Linked DNA regions of Homo sapiens. The protein of the gene in region 1 interacts with the protein of each later gene in a pairwise test. Each region holds a gene or a part of one and is shown in the gene's direction. Other genes may lie near its edges.

What was found.
Region 2: the proteins of RIC3 (region 1) and FA2H interact in binary tests that used the Homo sapiens proteins (3 or more experiments, as listed by UniProt).
Region 3: the proteins of RIC3 (region 1) and TMEFF2 interact in binary tests that used the Homo sapiens proteins (3 or more experiments, as listed by UniProt).

The regions. Positions count from the first base shown.
Region 1 is NC_000011.10:8,155,417-8,167,260, reverse strand, and holds part of RIC3 (protein RIC-3 isoform a precursor), read left to right. Parts: intron 1-11,844. UniProt on the Homo sapiens protein: Molecular chaperone which facilitates proper subunit assembly and surface trafficking of alpha-7 (CHRNA7) and alpha-8 (CHRNA8) nicotinic acetylcholine receptors.
Region 2 is NC_000016.10:74,710,299-74,718,494, reverse strand, and holds the end of FA2H (fatty acid 2-hydroxylase), read left to right. Parts: coding exon of another isoform or gene 1-245; exon of another isoform or gene 246-1,895; coding exon 1,896-2,148; intron 2,149-4,225; coding exon 4,226-4,305; 3' UTR 4,306-5,526; downstream 5,527-8,196. UniProt on the Homo sapiens protein: Catalyzes the hydroxylation of free fatty acids at the C-2 position to produce 2-hydroxy fatty acids, which are building blocks of sphingolipids and glycosphingolipids common in neural tissue and epidermis.
Region 3 is NC_000002.12:191,993,730-192,005,573, reverse strand, and holds part of TMEFF2 (tomoregulin-2 isoform 1 precursor), read left to right. Parts: intron 1-6,365; coding exon 6,366-6,514; intron 6,515-7,252; coding exon 7,253-7,312; intron 7,313-11,844. UniProt on the Homo sapiens protein: May be a survival factor for hippocampal and mesencephalic neurons. The shedded form up-regulates cancer cell proliferation, probably by promoting ERK1/2 phosphorylation.

The DNA.
Region 1 (11,844 bases):
TGTTTTTTTGTCTTCACCTTCTAGAATGTAAGTTTGCAAGGGTAGGGACTTTGTCTTGTTTACCACTGTTTCTTCAGTACCTGGCATATAATGGGCAGTCAATAAATACTTTAAGATTATTAAGCTACCAATACTGTAAATTCTGTTTTTGACAAGGAGAAGCTACTGAAGTAGTATAACCTAGGAAAAAACTTACCTTGAATGGTACATTCCAGTAACTGAAACTTGCAGCAAAAAATCTTAACCATTTTGGGGTTACATACACCATTGAGAATCTTATAAAAGCTATGTATTTTCTTTCTTTCTCTCTCCTTCCTCCCTCTGTCCCTCCCTCCCTCCTTTCCTCTCTTCCTGGCCCCCTTTCCCTTTCTCTTTCCCTTTCCCTGGGTCTCACTCTGTCACCCAGGCTGGAGTGCAGAGTCATGATCACAGCTCACTGCAGCCTCTACTTCTAGGGCTCAACTGATCCTCCCACCTCAGCCTCCCAAGTAACTGGGACTACAGGCACATGCCACCATGCCTGGCTAATTAAAAAAAATTTTTTTTGTTTTTGGTTGAGATGGGGGTCTCATTGTATTGTCCAGGCTGGTGTCGAACTCGTGGGTTCAAGTGATCCTTCTGCCTCAGCCTTCCAAAGTGCTGGGATTACAGGCTTGAGCAACTGCACTCAGCCTAAAACTGTATGTTCTCTCTAGAAAAAGGTACATACTCTTATTGTACTCAGAATTTCAGTATCAATTCAGAGAATTCTCAGAACCCAGAAATCCCTGCTTTGAAGAAAGGAATAACCCTGAGTATTTGAAAATTCTTAAAAATACATGTTGTTATGTCTTCCATTTTTGCCCATTGATGTGCATGAAACAAGCACAGTTCCCTTTCCACATGAAAGCCTTTAAGATAGTCTTTTAACAAATATTTATGATGTACCATATCACATACTGTGCACATAGTGTATAGACACTATGTATTCCAAGAAAAAATGAGCGAACTCCATGCTTTGAGGCGGCCACAGTTTAGTAAAGGAAAGTAGACATGTCAACAGATAAATGCAAAACAGACATGTTAGCAGATAAATGCAAGAGTGTCAGTCACAGTTACTCAAGTCTGCGCAGGGAACAATGGAGACATGTATGCAATGGTCAGTGTTATTGGGACTTAAGAAGGGTTTCATAAACCAGGTGTGACAGCTCATGCCTGTAATCCCAGCATTTTGAAAGGCTGTGGTGGAAGGATTGCTTGAGCCTGGGAGTTCGAGACCAGCTTGGGCCACATAACAAGACCCCCATCTCTACAAAATAAGTTTGTTTTTTTTCAATTAGCTGGGCATGGTGGTGTGCACCTGTAGCCCCAGCTACTCTGTAGGCTGAGGTGGGAGGATCGTTTGAAGTTTGGAGGTCAAGGCTACAGTGAGGTGTGATTGTGTAACTGCACTGCAGCCTGGGCAACACAGTGAGACTCTGCCAAAAAAAAAAACAAAACAAAACAAAAAAAAAACCCCAAAAAACAGGTTTCATAGAACATAGAGGAGGGAAGTCTTTTTTTTTTTTGATAACAGCTTTCTTGAGATCTAATTTATATATCATACAATTCACCCACTTAAAGTGTACAATTTATTGGGTTTCAGCATATTCAGAGTTGTACAACCATCACTACAACCAATTTTAGAATATTTCTTCAGCCCCCAAAGAAACCCTGTACTTTTTAGCTATTACTCCACAAATCCCCCAGCCCACCTCCAGCCCTAGGCAACCACTCATCTACTTTATGTCTCTATAGATTTGCCTGTTCTGGACATTTGGTATAAATGAAATCATATAATATCTGATCTTTTGTGACTGACGTCTTTTAACTAGCATAATGTTTTCAAGGTTCATCCATGTTGTAGCATGTAGCAGTACTTTTTTTATGGCTGAATAATATTTCATTGTGTGGATATACCACATTTCATTTATTCATTAATCAATTGATGGACATTGAATTTTTGCCTTTTAGCTATTATGAATAATGTTGCTACTGATATCTGTGTACAAATTTTTGTGTAGACTTAATGTTTTCATTTCTCTTGAGTGTATACATTTGGAAAATGTGAGCATTCCAGTGTGGCTGGAACTAAGCGTGGAATTTCTAGGTTGTATGGTTATTACATGTTTAACCTTTTGAGGAACTGCCAGACCATTTTCCAAAGCAGCTGTACCATTTTACATGACCACCAGCAGTGTAAGAGGGCTTCTGGTTTCTTGTCAATACTTGTTTGTTATCTGTCTTCTTGATGATAGCCATCCTAGTAGGAATGAAATGGTATCTCATTGTGATTTTATTTGCATTTCCCTGATGACTAATGACATTGAGCATTTTTTGTGTGTTTATTCACTCTTTGTCTATTTGTATATCTTGTTTTGGAGAAATGTCTATTCAGGTCCTTTTAACCCTCTTTAAAAGTCAGATTACTTGTCTTTTTTTTTTTTTTTTTTTTTTTTTTGAGAGAGACAGGGTCTCACTCTGGTGCACAGGCTGGAATACAGTGGTGCCATCATTGCTCACTGTAGCCCCAAACTCCTGGGCTCAAGTGATTCTCCCACCTTACCCTCCCAGGTAACTAGGACTACAGGTGTGTGCCACCATAGCTGGCTAATTTTTAAATTTTTTGGCAGAAATGAGGCTCTCACTATATTTCCCAGGCTGGTCTTGAACTTCTGGCCTCAAGTGATCCTCCCACCTTGGCCTCCTGAAGCACTGGTATTACAGGTGTAAGCCACCACACTTGGCGTCTTGTCTTTATTGTTGAGTTGTAAGAGTTCTTTGTATATTCTAGGTACAAATCTATTATCAGATATATGATTTGCAAATATTTTCTTCCATTCAGTGGTTGCCTTCACGTTCTTGATGGTGCCCTTTGAATAAGAAAAGTTTTACATTTTCTCTGACAAAGTCCAATTTATCTACTTTTTTCTTTTGTTTCTCCTGCTTTTGGTGTCATATCTGAGACAAATTGCCAAATCCAAGGTCATGAAGATTTATGCCTATGTTTTCAAGTTTTATAGTTTTTGCTCCTGCAGTTAAGTCTTTGATCCCTTTGAATTAATTTGTGTATATGGGTAAGGTAGGAGTCCAACTTCATGTGGATATATAGTTGCCCCAGCACCATTTGTTGAAAAGACTCTTCTTTTCTCATTAAATTGTTCTGGCACCCATGTCAAATCAGTTGACTCTAAATGTAAGAGTTTGTTTCTGGACTCTCAATTATATTACATTAATCTGTATACTTATCCTTAGCCAGTACCATGCTGTCTTAATTATTGTAGTTTTCTAAGTTATGAAATCGTGAAATGTGTCCTCAAACTTTGTTCTTCTTTTTCAAGATTGTTTTGCTATTTTGGGTCCTGTGACCTAGCATTTCCATAGGAATTTTGGATCATCACTTTGGTTTCTGCCAAAAAAAAAAAAAAAAATGCCAGTTGGGATTTTGATAGAGTGAACTGAAGCAATTTGGAGAGTACTGCCATCTTACCAATATTAAATCTTTCAATCTATGAACAGAGGATTTCTTTTTTATTTATCTAGGTCTTTAATTTATTTTAAAGGAGATTGTAGTTTTTAGTGTGAAAGTCTTATTTTGTTAAATATATTCATAAGTATTTTATTCTTTTTGATGTTGTTATAAATTTTGTTTTCAGATTGTTCCTTAGTGTATAGACAATTAGTTTTTGTATATTGATACTGTATCTTGTCACCTCGCTGAACTTGTCTGCATATAGAGATAGTTTTACTTTTTTTTTTAATCTGAATGCCTTTTATTTTTATTTTTACTTTTTTTGGCCTAACTGCCCTAGCTGGAACCTTTAGTGCAATGTTGAATAGAAGTGGTAAGAACAAACATCCTTTCTTGTCCTTGATCTTAAGAAGTATGCTTTACTAGCATATGTAATGTTATCTGGGGGCATTTCGTAGATGCCTGTTTTCAGGTTGAGGAAGTTCCCTTGTATTCTTAGTTTGCTGAGTGTTTTTCATTATGAAGGGGTATTGAATTTTATCAAATACTTTTTTTCTATGTCTGTTGAGATGATTATGAGATGATTATGTGAGTTTTGTCCTTTACTGATGTGGCATATTACATTAATTGAAATTTAGATGTTAACCCAGCTTTACCTTCCTTGGCTAAATTGAGGAGGCAGTTCTTAAAGTGTTTTGGGGGGTGTGTGTGTGTGTGTATGTGTGTGTGTGTGTGTGTGTGTGTGTGTGTGTTTAAATAATCCAGATGAAAAAGAAGGGCATTCTAGGTAGAAGAAATACTGAGCAAAGAAACACAGAGGCTTAGGGCCAGGCACGGTGGCTCATGTCTATAATCCCAGCACTTGGGGAGCCCAAGGCAGGCAGATTGCTTGAGGCCAGGAGTTCGAGACCAGCCTGGCCAACACGGAGAAACCCCGTCTCTACTAAAAATATAAAAATTAGCCCAGTCTGATGGTGCACGCCTGTAATTCCAGCTACTTGGGAGGCTGAAGCAGGAGAATTGCTTGAACCTGGGAGTTGGAGGTTGCAGTGAGCTGAGATCCCACCACTGCATTCCAGCCTGGGCGACAGAGTGAGACTCTGTCTCAAAAAAAGAAAAAAAAAAAAAAAAAAAAAAAAAAGAAGAAGCATGGAGCCTTGAAGTATCCTCAGAGTTGTGAGAGAAGACACCAGAGAAGTTGGCACGGGCCAAATTGTGAAGGTTTTTTTCTGTCATTCTTAAGGAGATTGGGTTTTATTCTAAAGGCAGATGAGGCATCATTGAGTGTGTAAGGAGAAGAGAAACATTTAACCTGGTTTTAGAAAGGACACCCTGGCAGCAGTGTAGACACTGCGTTGTGAGGATTTCTTCAGGGAGAAGATTGTTGTAGTCATCCAGTTGAGACATCATGAGCATCACCAAGTCATTGTCATTGGGTTCACCAGTTAGGGTGCTTGTGACAAGTGACAGAAAAGTCAGCTTGACTAAGACAGGGAATTTATTGACTTGTGTAAATGAAAAGACCCTGTGTTAGAAATGTCTTGCAGTATGGTTTGAACCAGAGACTCACAGTTGTCACACTGGGGCTCTAGCTCTTATTTTCTGTGTCCTTTTCACTCTGGGTTCGTTCTCAAGTTGGTTCTGTGCTCTGGCTGCCCTCTCAGGGTGGTAGCAATGGTTGCAACAGTTTCGGACATTACCTCCTCACATTCCATTGCCCGGAGAAAGTGAGTGTCTCATTTATAGCAACAGTTTCGGACATTACCTCCTCACATTCCATTGCCCGGAGAAAGTGAGTGTCTCATTTATAGCAACAGTTTCGGACATTACCTCCTCACATTCCATTGCCCGGAGAAAGTGAGTGTCTCATTTATAGCAACAGTTTCGGACATTACCTCCTCACATTCCATTGCCCGGAGAAAGTGGGAGTGTCTCATTTATATACGTGTGTGTGTAGAGCTGGCCTGGAACTCCTGGCCTCAAGTCATTGTCCCACCTCAGCCTCCTAACGTGCTGGGATTACAGCACTTTGCTGGGCACAGCTCCAGGCCTCTTTTCTTTTAAGTCCTCCATCACTCTCACCTTCCAGCCTCACTCCCAAGATTCTTTCCCAGAAGTTCCAGCAAACATATCCGTTCACGTTAATGGCTTGAATTAAGTTAACTTGTGGTGCTGTGGGTAGAAAGAATATACTGATGAATCCACTCTGGAGTTGAGAGGAGTTCCCAAAGGAAAATATGGATATTAGAGCAAGAGAGGTTATCAATGGATAGATTGGAGGGAAGAGAATAATTTTAAGAGACATTTTAAAATAGAATGGGAAAGTGAGGGAGAGGGAGACATCTGGATTATTCTCAGGTTTAGGTGAAGGGATAGATGTTGATTTCCTTTGCCAAAATAGGAATGGAGGAAAAGTAGATTAAAGGTGTGTGAAAAGAAAATAAAAACTTGGGACCCCAGTTCACTATGCCAAAAGGAAAAAATTAAGCTGAAAGCTGAGTCGTGCAAGAAACTGCCTTTCCTTTTGTTCCTAAGCAGGTAGCTACAGATAAAAAATTAAATATCTCTACAGGTAGCTACTCTATGTTCACCGTATCTTACGTGAAGTGCCGATTTACTGAGCACCAGATGAATACATAATTGACTATTCCTCTACCTGCTCCTTTTCTCTTGCAACATATAGATTACCATACCCTTCTTTCCCCTCCAGCTCACTTTTCCCCTTGAAATATTGAAGCCCTCAAAATCATCTTTGGAGAAAGGCACAGACCTCTCTCCTGGGCGTGTCCTTAACGTTGGCAAAATAAACTTCTAAATTGATTGAGGCCTGTCCCAGATACTTTTTGGTTTACAGGTGTAAGATGATTAATCCAGGAATTGGAAAAGTAGTATTATGTCCCTTTCTTCAGTCTTCTTTCCTGTGTTAACATCCCTAGCTCCCTCATCCGTTCCTGGTATGACCTAGGTGCAAGTGTTTGAACACAGCCCTCTCAGAAGAGGCTCTTAGAACTGCAAATAACAGCATATCTAAGACAGTTCATGAAAGAGCAATCTGTTGTTTCCCTGCACTCTTCTTCTTCTATACTTAATGCTTTCTGGGGATTGCTCTAGTTTTTAGCATTTTCCTTGCTGACTTTGCTGTATATTAGAATTCTGAGCCTTTTTTTCTTCTTTTTAATAGGAGCTGCTCATCTAGGTTTTGTTCATTTTCTACTGTTCACTTGATGTTTCGGAATGAAATGTAGGAATTTGTAGTTTTCCTTGTTGCATTTTATTTGTTTAAATTTGGCCAAGAATTCTAGCTCTTGAAATTTTTTCAGAGCATTCAATGTTTCATTCAATGTATCTGCTTACCATTTCTTAGCTGTGTGCCATTCTTGATTTTTAAAAAACTTTTTGTTAAAGACATTTTCAAACATAAGCAAAAGTTGAGAGAGTAGTAAAATGAATCCATATCATCCTGCTTCAGCAGCCATCAATACATGGTCAGTCTTGTGTCATGGGTATCCCCACCCACTTTTCCCCCCATTCACTGGATTATTTTGAAGCAAATCCTAGACATTGGATCATTTTTCATCCTTAAATGCTTCAGTATGCATCTCTAAAAACAGATTCTTATTAAAATGTAGCCACAATACCATTGTCACACCTAAAAAGTCAATACTTCCTTGATGTCATTAAATATCTAGTTGGTGTTCAAATTTTTCCCACCATGTTATAATTTTTCTTTTTTTCTTTCTTTTTTTACAATTTTACCTTTGATTATGATCAGCATGTTTTCTCTTTTTGTTTGTTTTTTCTCAGGCTGGAGTGTAGTGGCAGGATCTGAGTTCACTGCAACCTCTGCCTCCCAAGTTCAAGCAATTGTCCTGCCTCATCCTCCTGAGAAGCTGGGATTACAGGCATCCACCACCACGCCTGGCTAATTTTTTTTGTATTTTTAGTAGAGACGGAGTTTCACCATGTTGGCCAGGCTGGTATCGAACCCTTGACCTCAGATGATCTGCCTGCCTTGGCCTCCCAGAGTGCTGGAGTTACAGACATGAGCCACCATGCCCAGCCTCAGCATGTTTTCTTGATAGGTCAAATTATTTTTTTAAATGTCTTAGTCATTTAAAACTGCTTTTAGAGTCCCACCACTGTATTCATGGAAACGTTTTGTTTAGGGTCATTCAACCAGTTGGTTATTTGGTTGCTCTATTCCATCTTACTCTGTCACCCTGGTTTGCCTCCTTCCTCCTTCCCCACTTCAGTCTATTCTCAATATAGCTGCCAGATAGTATTATGTTGAAGCTTAAGTCAACTCACATCTCTCCCCTCCTCAAAACTCTACAGTGGCTTCCTGGCTTAGATGAAAAGATAGTCTATACATGACCCAAAAGGCCCTATGTAATTCTCTTCCCCATTTGCTTCTACTTTTCTATCTGTCTCACTTTGTTGTGGCCACACTGGCTTCCTCCTCACTGTTCCTTGAATATGCCAAGCATGTTCCCACTTCAGTGCCTTTGCATTTGCTGTTTCCCTTGTTTGAAATGCTCTTCTTTTGGATATCCATGTGCCTTTCCCTTCGTCTTCATGTTTTCTCTCAAACTGCATTTCCTGATGCCTTCTCTGGCCATTCCAGCTAAAATCTTAACTTCCAACACGGTCCTACCCCTTCTCCCTGTCTTATTTTTTCTCCTTAGTATTTATCATTATCTTGTTTATTGTCTCTTTTCCTACTTAGAAAGGAGGCTCTGTGGCCGAGCGCGGTGGCTCACGCCTGTAATCCCAGCACTTTGGGAGGCCAAGGCGGGTGGATCACAAGGTCAGGATTTCAAGACCAGCCTGGCCAACATGGTGAAACGCCGTCTCTACTAAAAATACAAAAATTCTCTGGGCATGGTGGCAGATGCCTGTAATCCCAGCTATTCGGGAGGCTGAGGCAGAGAATTGCTTGAACCCAGGAGGCGGAGGTTGCAGTGAGCTGAGATCGTGCCACTGAAATGCAGCCTGGGTGACAGAGACTCCATCTCAAAATAAAACAAAAAACAAACAAAAAACTTCTTAACTCTGGCTTCCTAGAGTTTGTGCTACACGATTCCTACTTTGTTGTCAGAAACACTAAGATCTCATTCTCCTGAGGTTCTCCTTTCATTTCATCAGAGCTTCTTCTTTGATCAGAGTAGCAGTTCTTCTGCTCTCCCTGTGTACCTGTGGAACATAAAAATGTCAGCACACTTGGTCAAGAACTTGTCAGTTGTTCCATTGTCAGCTGAATGAGAGTTTGAATAGGTTGCAGGGTAGTTGAAGTACTCCAAGATGACAGTGTGCCACTCTGTGTTGGAGGTGGCTTCAAGAGAGTCCTATCTACTACTTCTACTTGGCTGGGAACCTTTGGTGTTCCCACAGTAACACTGTATCTGGGCATCTTTCCTGCTGACCCTGCCTGAATGCTTATAAATAGGGTTCCTTAGTAGCCCCTCTCCAGTGGCCCTGTTCCTGTGGAATAGCACAGACCCTTTGTCACGATGTTCTCCCTAAGTAAGTTGTGTCCCACTGAGTCTTAATCTCTCTGAGATGTGAAAATATACAGATACATGTATATGTGTATATAAATATACACATACAAACATATACACATATACATGTATGACATACATATACATACATAGTTCTGTGTTATCTTAAACTAGCTTCTTATGTGTTGGTATGTAAGTGCCTGAAGACAAATATATTATTTTGGTTGGTTACCATTTATTTTCCCTAATGAAGCATCAGAGATCTACTCTGAAGGAATGTTTGAAGGACAGAGATTAGGAAATCATTTTGATTTCAGAGGGTCATTTTCCTGTTCATGTATTATGGAAATGAACAGAAAACAACAGACAATTTGAGAGCCCATGAATGCGTGTAAATTAGGCATTTTTTCAAGTTTAGAAACGTACAGGTAAGTGGGTATGGAATACCTTGCTTGATCAGTCATCCTAATTGCCAGTTTCTATTCTAGAAACTATAAAATTGAAAACTGGCAGGATAATGAAGTAAAAAACTATTTTTAGCCCTACAAATGACTGGGCAGGATCTTGAGATTCTAATAAAGGCTAACACTCCCAGTATAATTCATCCAAATCAGGTCAGCAAAGATTGTAGTAGGCAAGATCCAGAGCCTGCCCTGGGAACCCAAACAAATAAAACACTAGGCCTTTATTCAAGAAGTTCTTAGTTTGTCTTCCAGCCGGAGACCACTAGGAACACACCTGTAGTTGAACAAGTTGAGTGTATTACTCATTGCAGCAAGGGAGAATGCACACCATGGGGAATTGTGGGGCATCTCAATAAGGCACTGTTAGAAAAAGTCATTATAGGATTTGGGTTTGTGTTAGGTGATCTGGAGGATGGTTTAAGGATGTGGTACTTTACTCTGAATTAGATGCTTTCAGGAAGTAAGGCAAATTCTAGGACTGGTATCTTAACAGTTTATCTAAAGGGAGGGCCAACTAGAGAAAGGCTAAAGCTGTAATTGATAAAGCAGCCCCATCGTTCACATTACTCAGCACTGGGGGATATTAGGTATTTAGTGGCTTGGACAGTGTTCATGTTTTGTCTGTGTTCAGACAGATTACTGAGTGGTCTTGTTTTTTGTCTTGATCCGTCATGATCACAGAATGGCCTTGTCTAATGTTGGTGTTCTGAAATAGCTTATGTGTAACAGGAGAACACCACAACTTATCTGTGAGTACCAAGCCAGCTCATAGCAGTATTAATGCCTAGTTGATAATACCAGGCCAACTTTTAGATGTTAGAGGCTGCTTTTCTAGTTCTCAGATATGATATACACCAAATAAAATTGGATAGAGATGGTGTTTAGTGGAAAATGTTACCTGTTTTTGTTTCCCGGTTCATTTAAGTACAGGCTATAAGACACATTAATAAAACTCTTGATTAAGGCCAAGTGTGGTAAGTGCAATTAAAGAGGCTCAAGCAGTGTGTTTTACAGGCATGGGGAATAGCATGAGAAAATGCTTCGGGGGCATGGGGGCAGTATCTGGCCTGGGCCTTGGAGGATTGGCTGGATTTAGATATGTGGAGTTGGAGAGGAAAGCAAAGCCACTGGAGGATAAGCATAGGCTCAGAAGCAAGAAGGTGAAAGTCAGGTTCAAAGCATGGTGAGAACCCTAGTTTGACTAAATGAGTGGTATGTAATGGGAAAGTAGTGTGAAGAGCACTTTTGGGTTAGATTATGGAATTCAGTTGTTTAGGAATTCAGTTTGTGGGGAGGGAAAATCAGAATTTGTTAAATACCTACTATATGTGCTAGGTGCTTTGTATATATGATATTATTTAATCTGTAATTCTTGTAAACTCTGGAAAGTAGATATCATGCCCATTTTACAGATGATGAAAATGAGCCCTAGAAAGATTAATTTAACCTCCACTGAAATAGTGGGAGGCACAGCCATAATCTTAACCAGTAACTGACTGAAAAGGTGGCACTCATTCCACTTCACTCTGCTACCTCCATTCTGCTGTAATACAGCCTCTTGTCATCAGTGGAAACTATTAGAAGCTTTTGATCAGAGAACTGGCAAGACCAGTTAGAATTGTGCTTTAGGAAGATTATTCTGGTAACAAAACAGTGGTAATTGATGTGTATTGAGTGTGTGGATCGGGCCCTGTGCTAAGCAACTTAGACACACAATGATCTCTTTTAGTAATATATAGGATGGATTGAGAATGGAGAGGTTGATAAAAGATGAAAGAAATCTGATTAAATTAGCAGAAAATGTGAAAGCAGTAGAGAACAAAGCAGAATCAGGTAGAAGGGAAATGTAACAAGATAGGGCCCTTGGAGGAGACCGGTGAGGAAGAAACAGCTATTGTCTTGGCTTCTACTTCAAGTAATGCTGAATCAAATATGGCTTCTACAGCTTCCTCAATATTTAGGGAAAAGCTTGGCTATCTTAAGCAACTGGCCCCCTTAAGACCTTTCTTGAACCGCTGTTTCTATTTTTTATTAAAATAGAAACATGTCCAGTTCTTTATAGATTTATTTGCCCCAAGAATGAAATGCTGCAGATGAGTTAATGTTGCTTTCAGAAAACTCTTTTGTTAACAGTGCTGAAGTTTCTGTTTTTGTTTTTAGCAATAGGTATGGTTATTAACAAAGGAAAGTAGAGCTTCACTTTGTAAAATCCATTTTCTTTTCTTTTTTTTTGAAACGGAGTCTCACTGTCACCTACGCTGGAGTGCAGTGGCGCGATTTTGGCTCACTGCAACCTCCGCCTCCCGGGTTCAAGCGATTCTCCTGCCTTAGCTTCCCGAGTAGCTGGGATTATAGGCATGTGCCACCATGCCCAGCTAATTTTTGTATT
Region 2 (8,196 bases), on another chromosome or scaffold:
CTGGGGATTCCAGAGTCTGCGCTCTCAATCACCCTTCCCCTGAGGCCCTTCAAGGACTCCACGACAGTCCCAGAAGCTGGCCCGAGAAGATAGGTCTGCCCAAAGGAAGCTACCTCCCCTGTACCCCCCGCTGCTTCTCTGTCCCTGCATTGTGCTGTCCTTGGCCCATCCCAGGCTGTTCCCCAGCCCGTCTCCACACTCTGTTCTCTGCTGGGCATAAATCAGAGAAAATATGGCAGATATGATACTTTCGGGACACCAGTTTAGACCCTGATGTCGCTGATACTGAACGTGGGTTTCACCTTGGTTTCCCAGCAGCAACTTAATCCGGTTCATCTCGATGAGCCGATTCGGGGTTTGATCGGCCGCCTGGGACAGTTCTCAGGTTGGTTGGCTGTGGTCCTCCCGGCTCTCCCCAGAGTTGATCTGCATCCTAGGGGGCTTTCCTAGGGGCCAGTATCAGGGTGGGTGCCCAGTCCTGGGCCAACCTGTCTCTCAGGTATGCTCTCAGAGGTAGCGCAGCCCAGGCCTGGCCTGTGTCCTCCAGCCTCACCTGGCCTCTGCTCTGCAGAGCTCACTGCATCTGCTTCTGTGTCCCTTGCCCTGTTTGTGAAGCCTTTTCAGATCCACTGCCCTGTCCGCTATCTTTCCCATCCACAGGGGACACCAGAACCTTCTGGGAACCTGCTCAGGCCATTCTGGGGCCCCAGGGGCTGTCTCAGGCTCCCTCTTTTGAGACACTTCCACCCCAGTCTGTCCAGTCCCCTGCTGCCACACCATGAGGACCCGAGGAGACTGTATGGCCTGTAGCCACGTGGGCTCCAATCAGGAACGTGTTCTCAGATCCCCAGACCTATCCATCTAAGGATCCTGATCCAGCTGTGACCCGGATCTGGCCCATACCAGCTCACAAGAGCACCCATGCACATCCTTTCCTGTTTCTGTTCCAGTGACGCCACCTCAGCGCTTGAAAGCGCCAGGGCAGTTTTCACACTGCAGGAATTGGCAAACACTACCAATCAGGGCTCTCCCTCCCTCCCTTTATTTCCCCCTCCCTCATTCCCCAGCTCTCTCCCTTCCTCCTTTTCCTGAGAGCTGGTTTTCCAGCACATCACTGGTCCTGTTGTTCCTGGTCTGAAGGGAGGGAGGCCCACGCCAGCATCTCATTGTGTCACTGTCACCTGCTTTCTCTCTCTCTCCTCCAGCCCAGAGAGGCTGCAGGATTCTCTTCTCAGACTCCTCACCAAGCCATAGCTAAGATCTCACCTCTATGCCAGGCCCTTGGCTTCTGAAGCTCGAGGGCCACGGTGAAGCGGTGTTCTCTGGTTCACTGTGGCGACACCCCCTTGGAACAAAAAAGGCCTCCTGTTTGGACATGGGGGTGGGGAGGACACCTCTAGTGACACTTCCGGGTCATCCCGCCACAGAGGCTGCATTAACCTCAGTTGCCCTCAGTGCCTTGCTCTCCCAGACAACATCAGGCCTCAGTCTAGGTGCCCTGTCTCCAGAATGCCCCTCTAGCCAGGGGCACGGCATTTAGGGATGGGATACCTGTCTAGCACCTGACAAATTCCAGAGTCACAGTGGCCTCTATAAGATGGGCTCTGAGCCGCCAGCACACCCCACCCATCCTGCCCATCCTGCCCATCCCGCCCATCCCATGTTCCTTTGCAATCTGCCAGGTCCCTTCCTGGCTCACAAATGGGAAGTAAGACAGTCTCTCCAGATCTTCCAGACGTGGTGGCCCGCCCTCCCCAAAGCCACCAAAGGTGCCAAGCCTACGCAGTGGAATGTCTGGGCCGCTGTGCCCCTGTCCTCTGCAGGGAGTGGCCAGGGTTTGGCCAGCTGCCGGGGCCCCTGGCTGCCTCCTGATGCCCAAGCCTCTCCATCTGCAGGCACCCTTCGACGGCTCCCGCCTGGTCTTCCCCCCTGTGCCAGCCTCCCTGGTGATCGGCGTCTTCTACTTGTGCATGCAGCTCATCCTGCCCGAGGCAGTAGGGGGCACTGTGTTTGCGGGGGGCCTCCTGGGCTACGTCCTCTATGACATGACCCATTACTACCTGCACTTTGGCTCGCCGCACAAGGGCTCCTACCTGTACAGCCTGAAGGCCCACCACGTCAAGCACCACTTTGCACATCAGAAGTCAGGTGAGGATGGGCCTGTGCTTCCCAGCCCCCTATGTGTGTTCATTGATTTATTTGCCAACTACCATCGAGCTCCTGGGAACGGCAAGGCACTGTTCCATGTACGGGGCATATACAGAGGGTTCCCTCTACTCTCTTCCCTGGTGCAGACAGCTGTGCAGAGACAGGCAAGGACATCAATAAATGGCAAAGATTTCAAACTGTGATAAATGCCATAAAGAAAATAAAGGGGCTGGGTGTGGTGGCTCACACCTGTAATCCCAGCCGAGGGGATTGGGAAGCCGAGGCAGGTAGATCACTTGAGGTCAGGAGTTTGGGACCAGCCTGGCCAACATGGTGAAACCTGTCTCCACTAGAAATACAAAAATTAGCGGGGTGTGGTTGTGCCCACCTATAATCTCAGCTACTTGGGAGGCTGAGGCATGAGAATAGCTTGAATCCAGGAGGCAGAAGCTACAGTGAGCTAAGATTGCACCACTGCACTCCAGCCTGGGCAACAGAGCAAGGCTCTGTCTATAAAAAAAAAAAAAAAAAGAAGAAGAAGAAGAAAGTAAAGCAAGGTGATGGAATATCACATAGGTGGGGGAGGGTCCAGCGATTTCCACTGACATATTATGTGGGCCACATATGTGATTTTAAATTTTCTAGTGGCCACACTAAGACATGAAAATAAACAGATGAAAAGAATTTTAATAACATTTACTTAACATAAGCAAATTATTATTTCAACATGTAATCAACATTAAAAAATCATTAATGGCTGAGCGCAGTGGCTCAGGCCTATAATCCCAGCACTATAGGAGGCGGAGGCAGGGGATTGCTTGAAGCCAGGAGTTCCAGACCAGTCTGGGAAACATAGCAAGACCTTGTCTCTACATAAAAAAGTTTTAATTATCCATGTGTGGTGATATGCACCTGTAATCTCAGCTACCTAGAAGGCTGAGGCAAGAGGATCATTTGAGCCCAGGAGTTTGAGGCAGCAATGAGCTATGATCATGCCACTGCACCCCAGCCTGGGTGACAGAGTGAGACCCTTTTTGTAAAGTCTCTTTAAAAAAAAATAATTAGCAACTCTTATACTAAGTCTTTGAAATCTAAGGTGTATTTTGTACTTACAGCACATCTCAATTCAGATACTAAAGTTTCATTAGAAATACTAGATCCATATCTAGATTTTATAAAATTTGCAAACAGTAGTTCACATAGGTAAGTTGCTCCAAACATGCTTAAACATTTTCCGGTAACACACTTGAGGAGGCCGAGACGGGCAGATCACCTGAGGTCAGGAGTTCAAGACCAGCCTGGCCAACATGTTGAAACCCCCTCTCTACTAAAAACACAAAAAATTAGCTGGATATGGTGGTGCGCGCCTGTAATCCCAGCTACTCAGGAGGCTGAGGAAGGAGAATCTCTTGGACCCAGGAGGCGGAGCTTGCAGTGAGCCAAGATCACACCAGTGCACTCCAGCCTGAGCAACAAGAACGAAACTCCATCTCAAAAAAAAAAAAAAAAAAATTCCAGTAACTCAATCAAGCATCAGTTTTTACATTGACATGTTAATTCATCAGAATTAAATGAAGTTAGAAATTCAGTTTCTCTGGAGCTCTAGCCACATTTCTAGTGCTCAGTAGCCATGTGTGGCTAAGGGCTAGTTGGACAGCAAAGAGATTAAATGGTCCAGGTGTCATTGCAGAGGTGCCATTAGAGCTAAGACCCTAATGAAGAGAAATCAGCATCTGGCGTCCCAAGAGCGACTGGTGCAAAGCCCTGAGGCAGGAATGAACTTGGGCCCCAAGGAAGGGGAAGGAGATGGAGGTGGGGGGTGGGAGGGGGCCACGTAGCCTAGAAACGAAGGCCAGATAAGGAATTAGGGTTTATTCCAGCTTCATGCTGGGGACAATAAAAGACACAGGTTCCCCACCCTTGACTTCTGCCAGAATGGCCTCGGGAGTTGGGAAGGCCAAGGGGACAGATATTGACATTGTCTCCACCTCTTATCCCTACCCTGGCACCCTTCCCAAGCCAGCGCACGCCTGCTCCTTCAATGCCTCATCTTCTCCCCGTTTGTCTCCCTCTCTAGGATTTGGTATCAGCACTAAATTGTGGGATTACTGTTTCCACACCCTCACTCCAGAGAAACCCCACCTGAAGACGCAGTGACAACTCCCACCCCCTCCGTCCTGCCCTCAGCCCGGCCCTGGCCCCTTCCCGACCCCCACCCGCCATTCAGACCCCATTAAGAAGGTTGGCTTGGCCAGGCAGGATGGGCTGTGTCCGGCCCTGCAGCCTAGTGGAAGGTGCTGAGGGGGCCCTGAGGCAGGACCGCCCTCCTGACCCCTGGTAGGAGGGTCACATCCACTTGGTGGCCAGGTGGCCCTTGGTGACCCACTTCTTCCTGGAGCGTCCCTGCCTAGAGCTCAGCCCACAGGACTGCTTCAGGCCGTGGCCACAGGTAGCAGCCGCAAGGGGAAATGAAGAAAACTGAGCCCTCGTGGCCACCTGTGTCACCCTTGTGCCTTAGCCTCATGGGCTGCCTAGGAGCTGCCTGCACGGCACAGCTCGCTTTCACAGTCAGAAGTGGGTCTGTGGGATCTGTGGTCCCTGTCCTCCCTGCTGTCCCTTCTGGGGAGGCTTTGGTGGCTCTGAGGTGGACAAAGAGCTCTCGCAAGAAGAGACAGCGTGATGCCTCCCACAGTCCACCCCAGACCCTGGGGCAGCCCCTCTGGCCCTGCCAGCTGCCTGCGTCGTTGGGCCCAGGGTGGCTGGCAGGAGTCCCAGCTGCTTGCTTTAGGACCTGGCAGCTTTTCTTGCCGTCCCTCCCCTGCCTCCAGAATCACAGCCCTTCTCCCCAAGGGAGGCTGAGGAGGCTTCTCCACCAGTGGCAGCCCCACCCCGTCCCTGGCCATTCTTGGCCTCCACCCCGCTCAGGCCCCTACTCGGGCGCTCCCAGAAGGAGCCACCTCTCAGTGCCTCACCTCCCCCTGCCTCCCAGCCTCCGCAGATGAGGTTCCTGCCCCTTCCTCCTCGTAACCAAAACCCTCACTGCTCCCAGGACGGTCTTATTTATAAACCAGATACATGTTCTTAGTCTGGTCCCAGACCAAGGAGCTGGTCAGACGGCCCTTTCTAATCCTACATGTTGAGCTTATGTAAAAAATGTTGTTTCCTCCTGTTTTTGGTTCCTTTCTTACCCACAAACCATTACTACTTGAAACTTAAAAAACTCGCCAAGTGTAAAGGCTAAAGAGAAGCAGTTTGACGGACCTTGTGATTTGTACTGTTTGCTGCGGAGCTATTTAAAGATTTTGGAATAAATATACAAAACTACGGTTGTGAAATAAAAACTTAAATTGTATATTTTGAAAAATAAAACACTGAAAAGAAACCAACAAAAATGAGTTGTTCATCAGACTCCCTCGTGGTTGGGAAGGGGCAGTGGTGTGGGGAGGGATAGAGGGGCAGAGGATTGGTCCCCAGGGAGGGAGATTCTAGCCCTGACCAGGGTGGGTAGAATTGCTGGGGCATGGTGATGATTAAAAGCTGACCAACTCTCAGCTGGGCGCGATGGTGCATGCCTGTAATCCCAAGATTTTGGGAGGCCAAGGTGGGAGGATCGCTTGAGGCCAGATGTTCAAGACGAACCTGCCCAAAATAGCAAAACTCCATCTCTAAAAATAAAAGAAAACAAGACAAAAGAAAACAAAACAAAAGGAGAAAGCTGACTGACTCTTATTCTCTCACTCAGCTTTATTCTGTTTCTAAATTCTCTGCAGACAGCATCTCCTCTTATTGCCTGCACCTGGGATGCATTGTGCCCACAAACCACTTTGATCCGCCAATGGGGAGGGATCTCTTCTGGAGTTTATCTAACCCCAACTGAGCTTCCAGTCGACTTTCCTAAAACAGAGGGAGAAAGGCTCCAGCAACAAATGCCCATAGTGGGAACTAGAACCTCAAGCAGCTCAGTCTCGGTGAAACTGTTGCTTGTCTTTCTCTGCTGCCCTATCGGAACCACCTAGGAAGCTGTCGAAGTGCAGCTCCAGGGCCTCGCACTCAGGGTCTAGTTCAGTAGGTCCAGGGGGGTAGGCCCTGGACTCACCTGTCTGAGGACACGGAAGCGGAAGCAAGCTGATGTTGGGGAGCCTCGGAGGGAGCCCAGAACTCTGCTGTGTCTCCCTGCTCTGGCAGTCATAGGGGCAGCTTTATGCCTGCAGCTCCCAGCCCGAAGATAAGTAGGACCCGTCGGAGCCACCCATCACTCGAGTCCCTGAAGCCTGTCACCGGAACCCAGCCCGTCCAAGCAGCAGAACTCATAACCTTCATTTACTGATGGAGCTGAGCAGCTCACCCTAGACCATCACACCCAGGGGGAGGGAGGCAGAGGAAGAACACAGGAGGAGCTCCGCAAGTGTAAACACACATGGCCACAGCAGGAGAAAAAGCCTAAGGTGAGCAAGATTTAGCAAAAAAAAAAAAAAAATTGAAAATTTTCTTTAAGAAGAGTGAAACAGGCCGGGCGCAGTGGCTCACACCTGTAATCCTAGCATTTGGGAGGCCGAGGCAGGCGGATCACTTGAGGTCAGTAGTTCGAGACCAGCCTGCCCAACATGGTGAAACCCCATCTCTACTAAAAATGCAAAAATTAGCTGGGGGGCGTGGTGGCATGCACCTGTAATCCCAGCTACTCAGGAGGCTGAGGCAGGAGAATTGCTTGAACCTGGGAGGTGGAGGCTGCAGTGAACTGAGATTGTGCCACTGCACTCCAGCCTGGGCAACAGAGCAAGACTCCATCTCAAAACAAAACAAAACAAAACAAACAAACAAACAGTGAAACAGACGGGACATGGAAGCTTATGCCTATAATCCCAACACTTTAGGAGGCCAAGGCAGCCAGATCGCTTTAGGTCAGGAATTTGAGACCAGCCTGGGCAACACAGTGAGACCCCATCTCTACAAAAAATAAAGAAAATTACCTGAGTGTGGTGGTGCACACCTGTAGTCCCAGCTACTTGGGAGGCTGAGGTGGGAGGATCACTTGAGCCCAGGAGGTTGCGGCTGCAGTGAGCCGTGATCACACCACTGCATTCCAGCCTGGGCAACAGAGTGAGACCCTGTCTCAAAAAAAAAAAAAAAAAAAAAAAAAAAAAAAGGAAGTAAAACAAAACTAATAAGAAAGGCCAAAAAATAAAGTGAGTTTCTAGCATGGTAATGAGAAGATTTAGAAAAAAAGTGACAACACGAAACCAAGCCCACCTATTAATGAAAAGTCCAATTGGTGAAAATCTGACAGATTCTCCCAGAGCTCCCCATTGCACCGCTGTAACTGTCCAGTGGGGTTGGGAGTATCCACAAGGCCTTTTGGAGAGAGAGCAAGTCCCACCTCACAGGGACTTGAGAGTGCAGAAGTAATTGCCTGCATTTTCTTTCTTTTTTTTTTTTTAGACGGAGTCTCGCTCTGTCGCCCAGGCTGGAGTGCAGTGGCGCGATCTCGGCTCACTGCAACCTCCGCCTCCCGGGTTCACGCCATTCTCCCACCTCAGCCTCCCAAGTAACTGGGACTACAGGTGCGCGCCACCACACCTGATAATTTTTGTATTTTTAGTAGAGATGGAGTTTCACCATGTTGCACAGGCTGGTCTCAAACTCCTGTGCTCAGGCAGTCCTCCTACCTCAGCCTCCCAAAGTGCTGGGATTACAGGAGTGAGCCACCGCACCCGGCCATATTGCCTGCGTTTTCACAGCAGGGCAAAATACAGGAAGGCCACGAGGCCTGCAATCCCCAAGCAGTTAGTGCTCACGGAGCAGCCCCCACCTCAGTGAGCATCTAGGGGAGCTGGAGGATTTTGCCATCAAGTGTAAGAGTCAAAGATTAGATGTTAGAGCAAGCACAGGATATTATCAAAATGCCAACACATCTGGCCTGATGGGAAAAGCCTAGACCTGTGACGTGGGATTGTGTTTATTCCTGCAGTGGGAGAGACACTAAACCAAAAAAGTTTTATGTTTGCTCAGGGAGGTAGCTATTGATTTATTTATAGAGAGAGGTTCTCA
Region 3 (11,844 bases), on another chromosome or scaffold:
CTAGGAATATTGTATGGTCAAAATACGGAATGGACACCAAGTCAAAGACCTTGGGAGAGGAATAAGTGACAGCCATGTTTAATAGATGAAACAAAATCTAGTGAAATTAGAGGGCAGCCACAAACCAGACACATGAATATGTAATTTGCTAGCTGCCAGGTTCTGCATTCTCACACTCTGGCAGATGACAAGGCACTTCTAAATACACAGAGAAGCTTATTTAACTCATTGCAGATCATCCTTGGAAGAGCCATTTCAAGTGAGGCAGGGAATTAAATTAATGTCAAACCCCCCGAAAATATTGATGAGATAGTTACAAATGTATGTGAGTTGTCTCAAATGCTACCTTTTACTGCTATAATTTAAGTTCCTTACTCCATCAAGTGGTCTTTAAAAATTATTTCCTATTTCTCTTCTATCTTATAATTCAGAGAGCTAAGGTTTTCAGTCAATGTTAATTTTCTTTGAAGGATTTTCAGAGGGTAGTATTACCACATACAGACCCCTGAAATTATTATTTTCGAGTAAGGCTGATTCTTTTTCTTTGTAGCCTAGAAGAAAAGAGATCTATGTAATCGCAGTGTCAAAATGTCAAAAGACTGAGATAGGTTGAAAAAACGAAGAAGAAAAGAAAAGAAAACACAAAAAACCTTAAAGGCATTCGTGCAGTCCTCAGCCTTACAAATCTTTGGCTCACATAAAATACTTGTGACATGCTATAATTAACTAGTTACTCCTCTCAGAATGAATAATAATGCAATTATTTGCCAAAAGCAGTGAAGGGATAGTTTCTGTTTTCAAAAACGTGTGCTTTTCATTTCTGCAGAAAGAAAAACCCTTGATTAATTTACATAAGTTGGTAAAGTGACCTGCAGTTTCACCATTACATTATATGATAATTGCTACCTTTTTTCTTTTTCTTTTTTAATCTTCAAAACGTATTTTTAATTATTTATTTAGAGACGGGGTCTCACTATTTTGCCCAGGTTGCTCTCAAATTCCTGACCTCAAGTGATCTTTCTGCCTCAGCCTCCTGAGTGGCTGGGACTACAGGCATACACCACTGAACCTGGCTCTTCTGTCACCTTTTTATCAGAGCCTTATGTTTTTCAGTGGTTTAATGTAGCAATAAACTGACAAGTTGCTATCATGTTCAAATTATATTGGTGCCTGAAACTGTACCCAAATACCACAAATGAGAAGTAGTAGCCTGCCTGGTGAAAACATTTTCTTGCCCCAGTTGGACTTTGATGCCATCAAGATTACTAACTGTTTGTTTCCTGTTTCCTTTGTCTGTGGAAACACAAATAAAAGGAGGACAGTGAGCCTTAGTTCTTCAGGAACCCCCTCTCCTTTGGAGACCCCACATCTGCCAAGTAGCACAAAGTTATCTCTCCTAGGTGTTAATATATAGCACAATGAATATTTTCAACTCTTTCAACACCATCTGCCATTCTCAGTAATTTATTCAACAACCATTTATTGAAGATGTTTGTAATGCACTGTACTAGGTACCAGGATGTCAAAGGTAAGTAAAACACCTTGCCCTTGAGAAGGTTGCAGAAAAGTAGAGGTATAAACAAGTAAACAGGTGCATTACCAATGCAGTAAATGCACCATGGAGGTGAGTGTGAGCCCCCCCCCCACACACACACACAAATTTTTTCACTCATATAAACACACAAAACCACCTCTACCCCATGAATGTAAACTTCCCCAAATTCCTCTTTGAAAGTTTTGAAGCAGACACCTGGAAAAAAATTAATGCTAAAACTCTCTAATTTTGTAATTTCAGTAGAGTTCATTGAGCTATACATTTGTGTGTTTGTGTGTATGTGTATTTGCGTGTAAATATTAGTTTTCATGTGGATCTTTATATAGCATTTTATTTAAGGATAAAATATTTTGAGCAACTGATGCTTTAGATAGTCAGGTTAATCTAATGCCCATAAAATTAGTTACTAATTCTAAAACCAGGTTTTAATTTGCAATGTCTTAAAACTAACATTCACTGATATATCCCAGTGATGCACAAAAAGTCTGGATTGCTTGTTTGAGAAGACAAGGACCAAGAGTCAATATGATTTAAATTCATAAAATCATGACATATTCCAAGAGTAGACATAGCCTTGGTTTTCAAATCCTATTTACTCAAAGGATTCCTTTAATCAGAGAGTGATAGGAATTTGGGTCTGTGATAGGAGTTTGGGTCTGTCTTTCTTTGTACTTTCAGTATGTAGAACAGGGCAGGCTCTGACATCAGACTGCCTAAATTTGAATTTAGGCTCTTCGATTTTCAAGCTGTGAGACTTCTCCAAGTCTCAATTTTCTTATCTGTAAGATGGGCATAGTAATAGTAACTTTTAGAATAGCAACCTTTCTTTAAGAATGTAAAATTGTTAGTGTATTCATTCATTTCATTTAGCTATCCAACATGTAGTTATTGAAAGTTTCATGTGTGCAAGATATTGGGCGGGTTGGGGATTGCAAAGATAATTCAATCACTGCAAATAGAGATCAAGATGGACTTAGAGTTTCAGACCATGGTCTTGGAATCCTGCATGTTTTTCTGACTGAATAAGCTTAATAGACATATATACATGGAATATAGTAAATAATGATTATGTAATCAGAGTTTATTGGTCTTTTGGAAACATAGAAATGGTAGGTCCTTGGTAATCCAGTCACAACATTTCCTTTTCCCCAAGCTTCATCGTTTTTGTGTTTTGTTTTGTTTTGTTTTTGAAACAGAGTCCCACTCTGTTGCCCAGGCTGGAGTGTAGTGGTGGGATCTCAGCTCACCGCAACCTCCGCCTCCCCCGTTCAAGTGATTCTCCTGCCTCAGCCTCCTGAGTAGCTGGGATTACAGGTGCCCAACAGCACATCTGACTACTTTTTGTATTTTTAGTAGAGTCAGCCTTTCACCGTGTCGGCCAGGCTGGTCTCCAACTGCTGAACTCAGGTGATCCGCCCACCTTGGCCTCCCAGGGTGCTGGGATTACAGGCATGAGACACCACGCCCGGCCAGCTTATTGTTTTCAAGCCATTTTAGCAAATCTTTGAAGTTTCTTCCACTTATTCACAAAAAAAAAAAAAATATTCTCCATAGATTTCCAATTTCCAGTGATTGCTGAGAGTCACAGGAAGTATTTTTAAAATGTACTCTTGCATTTATTTAATATATGCAAGTATATAGAGTAGGGAGCAAAGATGGAAGTTAATGATGAGGATATGCAATTGAGAAAAAGACCAATATAATCCATGCATTCCTGAAGCTTATATCCCAGGGAAACTTTCACCTCAAGGAATGAATCTATGTCCTCCTCTTGGGCTGAGAATAAAAACATCAACCATCTATACCTGTTTCTTAGCCATTCCATGAAAGGCTTTATTTGAGGCAACAAGAGCCAGGAATTTTGAGAGGAAACAAATCTTAAAAGGAGGCCTTGAGCAAGCGATGCTAGGAAAGGAAAGGGGGAAGGATGTCAGCAGCAGAAAAGCTGTGGGACCAAAATCAGATTAGTCAAACTGAAAAATAATAAATAAATAAATAAATAAATACACCAATTGGAGAATCTTGTAAAATATCCCACACAATTGTTCAATTTGGTGTTAAAGCTTAAGTGAATTTTTCAGTGAAACACTGATTCTAACCAGTCCAATTCAATCAAATTTTATCTTTCTGTCTGTATTAGTCTGTTTTCACCCTACTGATAAAGACATACCCAAGACTGGGCAATTTACAAAAGAAAGAGGTTTAATGGACTCACAGTTCCACGTGGGTAGGGAGGCCTCACAATCATGGCAGAAGGTGAAAGGTGTGGCAGCAGACAAGAGAAGAGAGCTTGTGCAGGGAAACTTCCCTTTATAAAACCATCAGATCTCATGAGACTTATTCACTATCATGAGAACAGCAAGGGAAATACCTGCCCCCATGATTCAATTATCTCCCACCAGGTCGCTCCCACAACACATAGGAATTATGGGAGCTACAATTCAAGATGAAATTTAGGTGGGGACACAGACAAACTATATCACCATCTCTATTCCCTTTGCACCATTTTGTCATGCTATCAAATGGGTTTCTGAACTGCCAATTACTTTCTGTCTATATATATATGTGACTTTTTCACTGAAACATTTAGAAATGTACACTGTATATATATATAATCTATTTACAAAACATTTACAAAAACATAAATATTAATAAAAATGTAAAATATATATATAGTGTACATTTCTAAATTTCTTTGGACTTAATTTGGATATACCGTCAAAGCCCTAATATCTTATCTAATTTACCATTTAGGTAGACAAGTGACAGAACATACCTTTCTGTTTTTCAGTTGCTAACAAACAACTTTATAGAAGACCTTGAAGGAGATAATTCCTAGAGTCTAACACAACAACAGTCAGAATCTAAACTGGTTTGAAGGCAAAAGAAACTACCTTTTTAAAAATGCAAATGTCAACCTCCTCACTCCTTTTTTATTTAATACAATGATTAAGGCTTGGCCTACAGAGTCACTTATCCACATCCGCTCTATAAGAACCAGAAGCTCTTTGAACATGTAGGCAGCTCCTGATCTCAGGTTTTCAGATGCCAAGAATCAGCTGAGGTAGCAATGTCATGTTCCAGTAGCTTGTGATCACATGGCAACATCAAAGCTAAGGTAGGAACACCGCTCCTCAATGAGTTAAGTGTTTAGAGATGGTTGCCATCTGTTGTAGCTATTTGTTCCTAAATAGGTAAATGTAAAAATAACCAGGCATTCCTACAGCAATTCTCTTACAAAATAAATAAATAAATAAGTAAGTTCATTAGCACATTTTCTGCCAGCATTTTTAAACAGCAATCTAGGTAATTCTGACACAGATGGTCTAAGGACTACACTCTGAGATGCACTGGTGTGTATACAAAGCCTCTCTCAATCAACAGACTGATCAAGCAGTGATTCCCAGGAATTGAGTCTGGTGCCAGGATGACTACTTAAGAATATAGAATGTTAGAAGCTACCCTAGATTTACTGGAGCCCAGAAATCTGCTTATGAATCTGTATACTTAAAAGTTCTCCAGGAGATTCTAATAACACAGTCTGTGGTATTAGAGAGAGGGGGTTGGGTTTTAGCTTAACAAATCTATGAGTGGGACCTTATTCCACAATTTACTAGTGTCTAACCTTATGTAATGTCTTTGGTCTGTAAAACAGCTGTTGTGAGGATTAAATAAAGCAATACATGTTGAGAGTCTAGCATGTAGTAACCTGCTTGCCATTGTATGCCTAGCTCTCAGTAAAATATACAGAAGTAAAAATGTATGCTTCATGACTTTGAGAAACATATAATCTATTTACAAAAACAACATAAATATTAATAAAAATTTAAAATATGAGTTTATATTCTAAAGCTGTAACATGGTTGTACACATACACCAGAAAACACACAAGACACAATATTCAGAATAATAAAATAGAGAAGTGTAAAGATATAGGAACAATCATATAAAATTTTCTTGAAAATGTTTAATTCTTCTTTAGGTAACCTAATTCTCATTAAATCACTGAATTTTTATTTAGATTATAGAAAAATATTAACATCATGAGTGGCAATCAACTTGTATTTATTATTTTATTATTTAAAATGAGAGGTAGAAAAATAGTAGTGTATATCTCGGAAGGGGTTTCATAGGATATGCTTAAAGGGGCCCAAGACAACCCTGAAATTTTATACAGAAGGGTTGTTTATATGAATATGGATATTTCTGGGGAGAGATCTATAGCTTTCATTTTTCCAAAGGGTTTTGTGGCCCCCCCAAAATGTTAAGGACCATTGAAGATTGGTCCTTTTAGTACATTTTATGTGCGTCCTTATTTATGCCAAAGAAATACGACTCCTGATTGCATGCCAAATAATTTACTTGTTTGCTTTCTCTGAACTGTCCTCTGAGTCAGTTTTCCACAAGCTTTAACCATTCAAATATCCCAAGAAAAGAAGGAAGAGTAAGATTCAATTTAAGAAAACTCTAAAGCAGAGTTTCATGACCTCAGCCTATTCATATTCTGCAGATATCAGCATGGAAATTTATGTACATGTTTTAAAAGTTCCAGGGCAGAAATTAACTGATGATCATTTTTGAGTTTTTCCTTTTATTTTTTATCCATTGCTCAGTTGTTTGAATTATTTTCCATTAGTTCTGTGTTTCTTTTCTTCTCAGTTAGAAAAGTGAAGGAACTTCCCTGGAAGGATACAATTCAATTTTGCCAACTTGCATTTTGTCAACTTAGCAATTCTTTCATTTGTGTTTTATTTATAATGTGGTAACAACACTATTGATGTTACATGTTTTTATTTCTCTCTTTTTTTAGGTGTGTGTGTAATATTGACTGTTCTCAAACCAACTTCAATCCCCTCTGCGCTTCTGATGGGAAATCTTATGATAATGCATGCCAAATCAAAGAAGCATCGTGTCAGAAACAGGAGAAAATTGAAGTCATGTCTTTGGGTCGATGTCAAGGTAATGTTCATACCAAAATTCATTTCAAAGAATGATTTTAGTCTTTGTGCAAAAATGAAAAGTGAAGAAAACTCCTTATTAGGCAGCTATTCCATTTCCAAAATGCAGTGCTTATTTACAATGGATAGTAGAGTCTACTGTAGCATTTGTGTCGATTATAGGATTTTGAGGGGCTCTCAGCAACCGTCCAGATCTGTCTCTATACAATGGAACTGTATTGTCACAATGCCATAAACACAGAAGCCAATATTCACAAGATAGCAGACAATTTTCTTGCAAAGGGAAAAAAGAAACTCAAAAACATTTTTAAAACGAATCTAAGAATTTATTAGACATCCTTGAAACTAAAAGCAAATCACTTCATTTTTATGTATTGATTCAGTACAAATATTTAAAATGCATTTTTAAAAGCAAGAGGTACTAGAATGTTCTATTTTCTTTCTTGTTCAGAAACAAGCATTTTCTTAGGTTTTGTTACTCCTTTGACCAATTTTTCTCAGTTATAATTGTGAATCTTCTTCTTCTCCCAAACTTTAGAAAGCTCTCTTCATTTTATTATTTGCTCTCAGACAGAAATTGACATTGTAAATCTGTCTTAGTATGATGCAGGTTGCTTAGAACTACAGTTGTAAAAATTCCTTAATTGCAATGAAGATATTGTTGGAGGAAATATATAAGTTTGATATTAGATATTTAGGAAGCAGTTAATCAATTTTTATTGTTAATTTTTTAACACAGATAACACAACTACAACTACTAAGTCTGAAGATGGGCATTATGCAAGAACAGATTATGCAGGTACATAATATTTTCTTCTACAAAATGTGAGCTCTTCTATTAAAAGAGAGTCCTGGGAAATGGTTGTTTACTACTTATTCCAAAGTGAAGCTTGCAAGACTTCTAACATGTGCTAGCCTTCTCTTGCTTAGTTCAAGCTTTCATTAGGCAAGAGTAATTTTTTGTTGAAGCAAAGAAGACATACGGTTTTTGCCAGAGTTAAAGCAATTGTCAAAAATGTCACTAAGATATAATTAGCTTGTCTTTACAGTGCAAATAGTACAAATAACAAAACATTTATCAAATTAATAGCATCAATGGAAATGAATGCAATTTCTGGCAATATATTATAATAAATGCAAATGTTCTTGTTTAAATTTTCATAAAAGTCAACAATGAAAAGTTTGCTAGTCTCTAAAAAGCTAGAAAGGACAGCTACAAATAATAATGCAGGTTGTCTTTATTTAGATGCAAAGTTAAAAATGTATGTATAGGTTTTTTTAATAGTAAATTTCTTTAACTTATTTTGAAACTAAAATGTAGTTTCTCAGACATGCAAAATTATAAAGCATTTTATATAAATATAAATCATATTTAACAATTATTTCACTTTGAAGAATGTCTCTAGCTAATCTAACTTTTCTAGAGTGAGAAATAATTCATGGGTATACAACTGAAATTTTAACAGATACTTAAATTTTATAGAAATTTGGGATAAAATATATAAATAGTATATAGGTTGATAATGATATGTGAAGTTTTTTAGGCAGAGCTTTTCATTTAGATATTAAGCAATCATAACTAGATTTATGGTAAATATTCAATCAAAAAGAGTTGTTTCTTGTCTTTTAAAATATATACTACCATCTATTCTTTCTTTCTGAAATTTCATTTTCTTTAACATCAGGATAAATGTGTATGAAATTTAAAAAATTAGTTAATATAGAGATCTGAAATCTCTTAGAATTTGGAAATAAAAAAGATATTTTAAACATTTATATTTTAAACATTTTCCACATTTTATCTTAATGTTTTTCAATATGTAGATGGATTTTTTATGTGCTATAAGACAGAAATTATCATGGACAATTATACATGGAAAAACATTGGTTCTACCAATGTATAGCCATTCCCAAAGCGTCCAGGAGAGAAATTTACAGATGTTCCTTGAAAAGAATAGTTCAGTGATCTGTAAGTTTGGAAGAGCTCATACAGACAAATGGGTCTTCTACCCAGAACTTCTCACAGCTCTTATGTTCATTATAAAATATTTAAGAGACATACATCTTTTATTTATTTATTTTACTTTTTGTTGTGGAGAATTTCAAATAAAGGTAAAATACACAAATGTAGGTTCTATAGCTTACTGAACCCACAAGTACTCATCATTCAAGCCCAGTAACACCAACCCGTGGCTAACCCAGCCCTGTCCTCACCCCTATCCTTTTTCCATACTTTCATAATATGTGGAAGCAAATCCTGAAAATTTTATCATTTCATTCACAAATACTTTAGCATGCATCTTGAAAAAAAATCAACAATTTTTTAACAAAGTTACAATACTGTAATCATACCTAATAAAATTATGAATAGTTCCTTATAGTACACAGCTTTTAACAAAATTGTTTGATAACACATTTTTGTGGCATGTTTTGCAGTATTGTTTCCAAGAATGTACATTGTGATATGCTGATCCACAGAAATATTATCAAAAATAATAAAAGATAATAATGAAAAATAAAAGTCTGAGGCTAATTGTATATATTTTAAATTTTAAATGAAAACAAATTTAAATTGTATATATTTTATAAACAATTATTATATTTTGATGGTATTATAAGCCACTGCTACTAACTGCAATTAAAATACCTTTACTCCTATTTTGCAAACTAATTCATTTGGAAAAATCTTCAAAAATGTAGAATTTATGCATATCTTCTTTAGTGAACCATCCGTCTTTGTACTCATTGAAAAATCAAGCCTCTCCCTGAGAATTTTGTTCCTGAAACAAAGAACTCTTCAAGTTGATCAGTGTCAATATACAAATATATATGCATTTATAAAGTTATTCCAATAAATATCATGAGAGATTCTACTGATCTCTCAAAGTCATTCATATTGCATGTTAACATTTTGCCCATTTCAAAGAGATTTGATAATTGAATTTTTATTCCAAAAAGTATTTATATATGGGTTTGGTTTTTTAAACAGATTATCTCTAATGTTGAGTGTCACTGTTCTTAATTGGCATTTTTTTTTCCTATCTTACTGCTTTATTAGGCATAGGAAGAAAAAAATACATTTTTAATACATGCAAATGAAAACTCTTCTGTCACTCATTGTAGTCCAGGATCTTCTAGTTTGGTGTCAGATTTATCCTGCAAACTCTAAAGAAAAACTTTTAAGATAAAAGTAAATTTTAAAAATACATGTTTGTTGAAATCCAAGTATAAGACAGGAACAAAGATAATGTCAATTGAAGCTTGTAATTCCTAGTTAAACATAGATTGCATACGTCAAGATTCTCAAGAAATTTTAGATATATTTGTCTTCATTAATGGTTTCATTAGAATACAATATACACCCTCTTTAGAAATCATTTAAGTAATAGTCATGTTCCTCAACATTTCCAAGCTTCCAATAGTATTTACAGTTTCCTGAATTTGGGAACACAAACTGTGGAAAAAATTAAAAGGAACCAAATAGAGAGTCTATGTGTCATTGTCCTCTTAATTACTATTTCATATGCTAAAATCTGTCCAAGGAGGGAAAACAGGAACTGTGTGACTCGTATCCCTCAAACTTTGCTGTGTGCTCACAGCTCATTTAATGTCACAGCCACTTCCCTTGTTAGACACACATTCACGGACTCTCCCACCTGAGGGAAGTAAGGATCTAACATACTATCATTTTTGCCTTATATCTAGTTAACACTATAGATTAAAAACCCTTATTTATCCCTCTCAGTTTTTTCTTTGAGCCTACTTTAAGAGCTATTAATACAGGAACACATGTTTCTGATTATAAAAATGGAGATCTTCTTGAAAGAAAGTCTAAATCTTAAAATAAATTAATTGTATCTCATTTTTAATATCAGTTAAAAGAGATCCCAGCAAGGATCAGCAGGAGGTGAATTACCAAAACGTGCAATAAATGCAAACGAAGGGAGCAATGCCTTCAACAAAACTAATATGTGCAGTATACTAGAGTGTGGCATACTTGCTCAGAGATGTGAATTCCATGATCCTCAAAGGCACATAAATGTAGTCAACACTAGGAAACCAAAGAATTTGCTCAATCATCCCTGCCAGTATTACTTTCTGGTTGCATTTGATTTGGATCTCTATTCTGCCCTCTCTCCTTTAATGAGACCCAAGGCATTACAGAGCTTTGAATAAAGGGCTTTGGATCTCTTCATTTCAAAGCCCAGTGACAGGATACTTGTCAGATGAGCTAACCAGGCCATTTAATGTTATTCTCCCTTCATCAATATAAGACTTGGGCTTAGAGTTAGGTCTGTCTCTACACCCACAGAAAGATTCGGGAACACAAATTTTACAAACACACAAAGCTAGGGCTTTCCAGGCTTTTCATTGTCTTAAATTGCTAAAATTAAACTGTCCTTTGGGAAGTTTTTAAATAGCAAATGTTTTACACCTCTTGAAATTTGCAACATTTTCTTTCATATATATGTGTATATATGTGTGTGTGTGTGTCCCTCATGTCTTCTAATGGAAAAGAAAAATGAAGTTCAACTATTTGTTTTTCTTTATCCAGTATATATATGTATATTTTCTGATTGTGTTGTTTTTCTGTCTAAAAGTTTGGTCATGCTTCAAAAAAAAAAAGGCTATATTTTTTCCAGTAAAAATGTACTTAATTTTATAAGTTGTTAGATATTTTATAAAATGAAGTCAGATGATATTGGTTTTAATTATCTAGAAAATAAAATGTTTTTTATTTTATGACATCCTACACCAGTTTTCAGAGTTTGGAGTGTTTTATAATTAAAATACATTTGTATTTTTCTTCCATATTTTTTAAATTGAAATTGTTTAAATAGAAATTGAAAACATAAAATCAGAATTGTTAAAGAAAATACATATACCAGCAACACAGACTATTACAGTTACTGTATTTAGCCCTAAGTTTCTTTGCAACCAATACAAAAGAAGAAATTATGGTTGAATCAATTCATTCAACAAATATTTGCAGTCACCGCAATATGCAAGCCCCTGTCCTGGGGTTTTACAAAGGTGAACAAGTCAACATAGGTATCTGCTAAATGAAACTTAGATTTTTATTGTCTGATAAAAAATAAAAAATAAGTTCAGAGACAAAAGACAAAGTTTCTCTATGCTAAATTATAAAGGAACTATTTAGCATAGATCTTTCTACAAGGCATCAGTGAAAAACATAAAATGAATAAAATCTTCAACAATGATTTTTACAAAATACGCCAAGAGGCTCTCCGTATGGCTGGGAATTTTTAAAATCAATTTTTGACAACATCCTAGAGCATAGAATTAAAATATGTATAACTCAAGGACAGT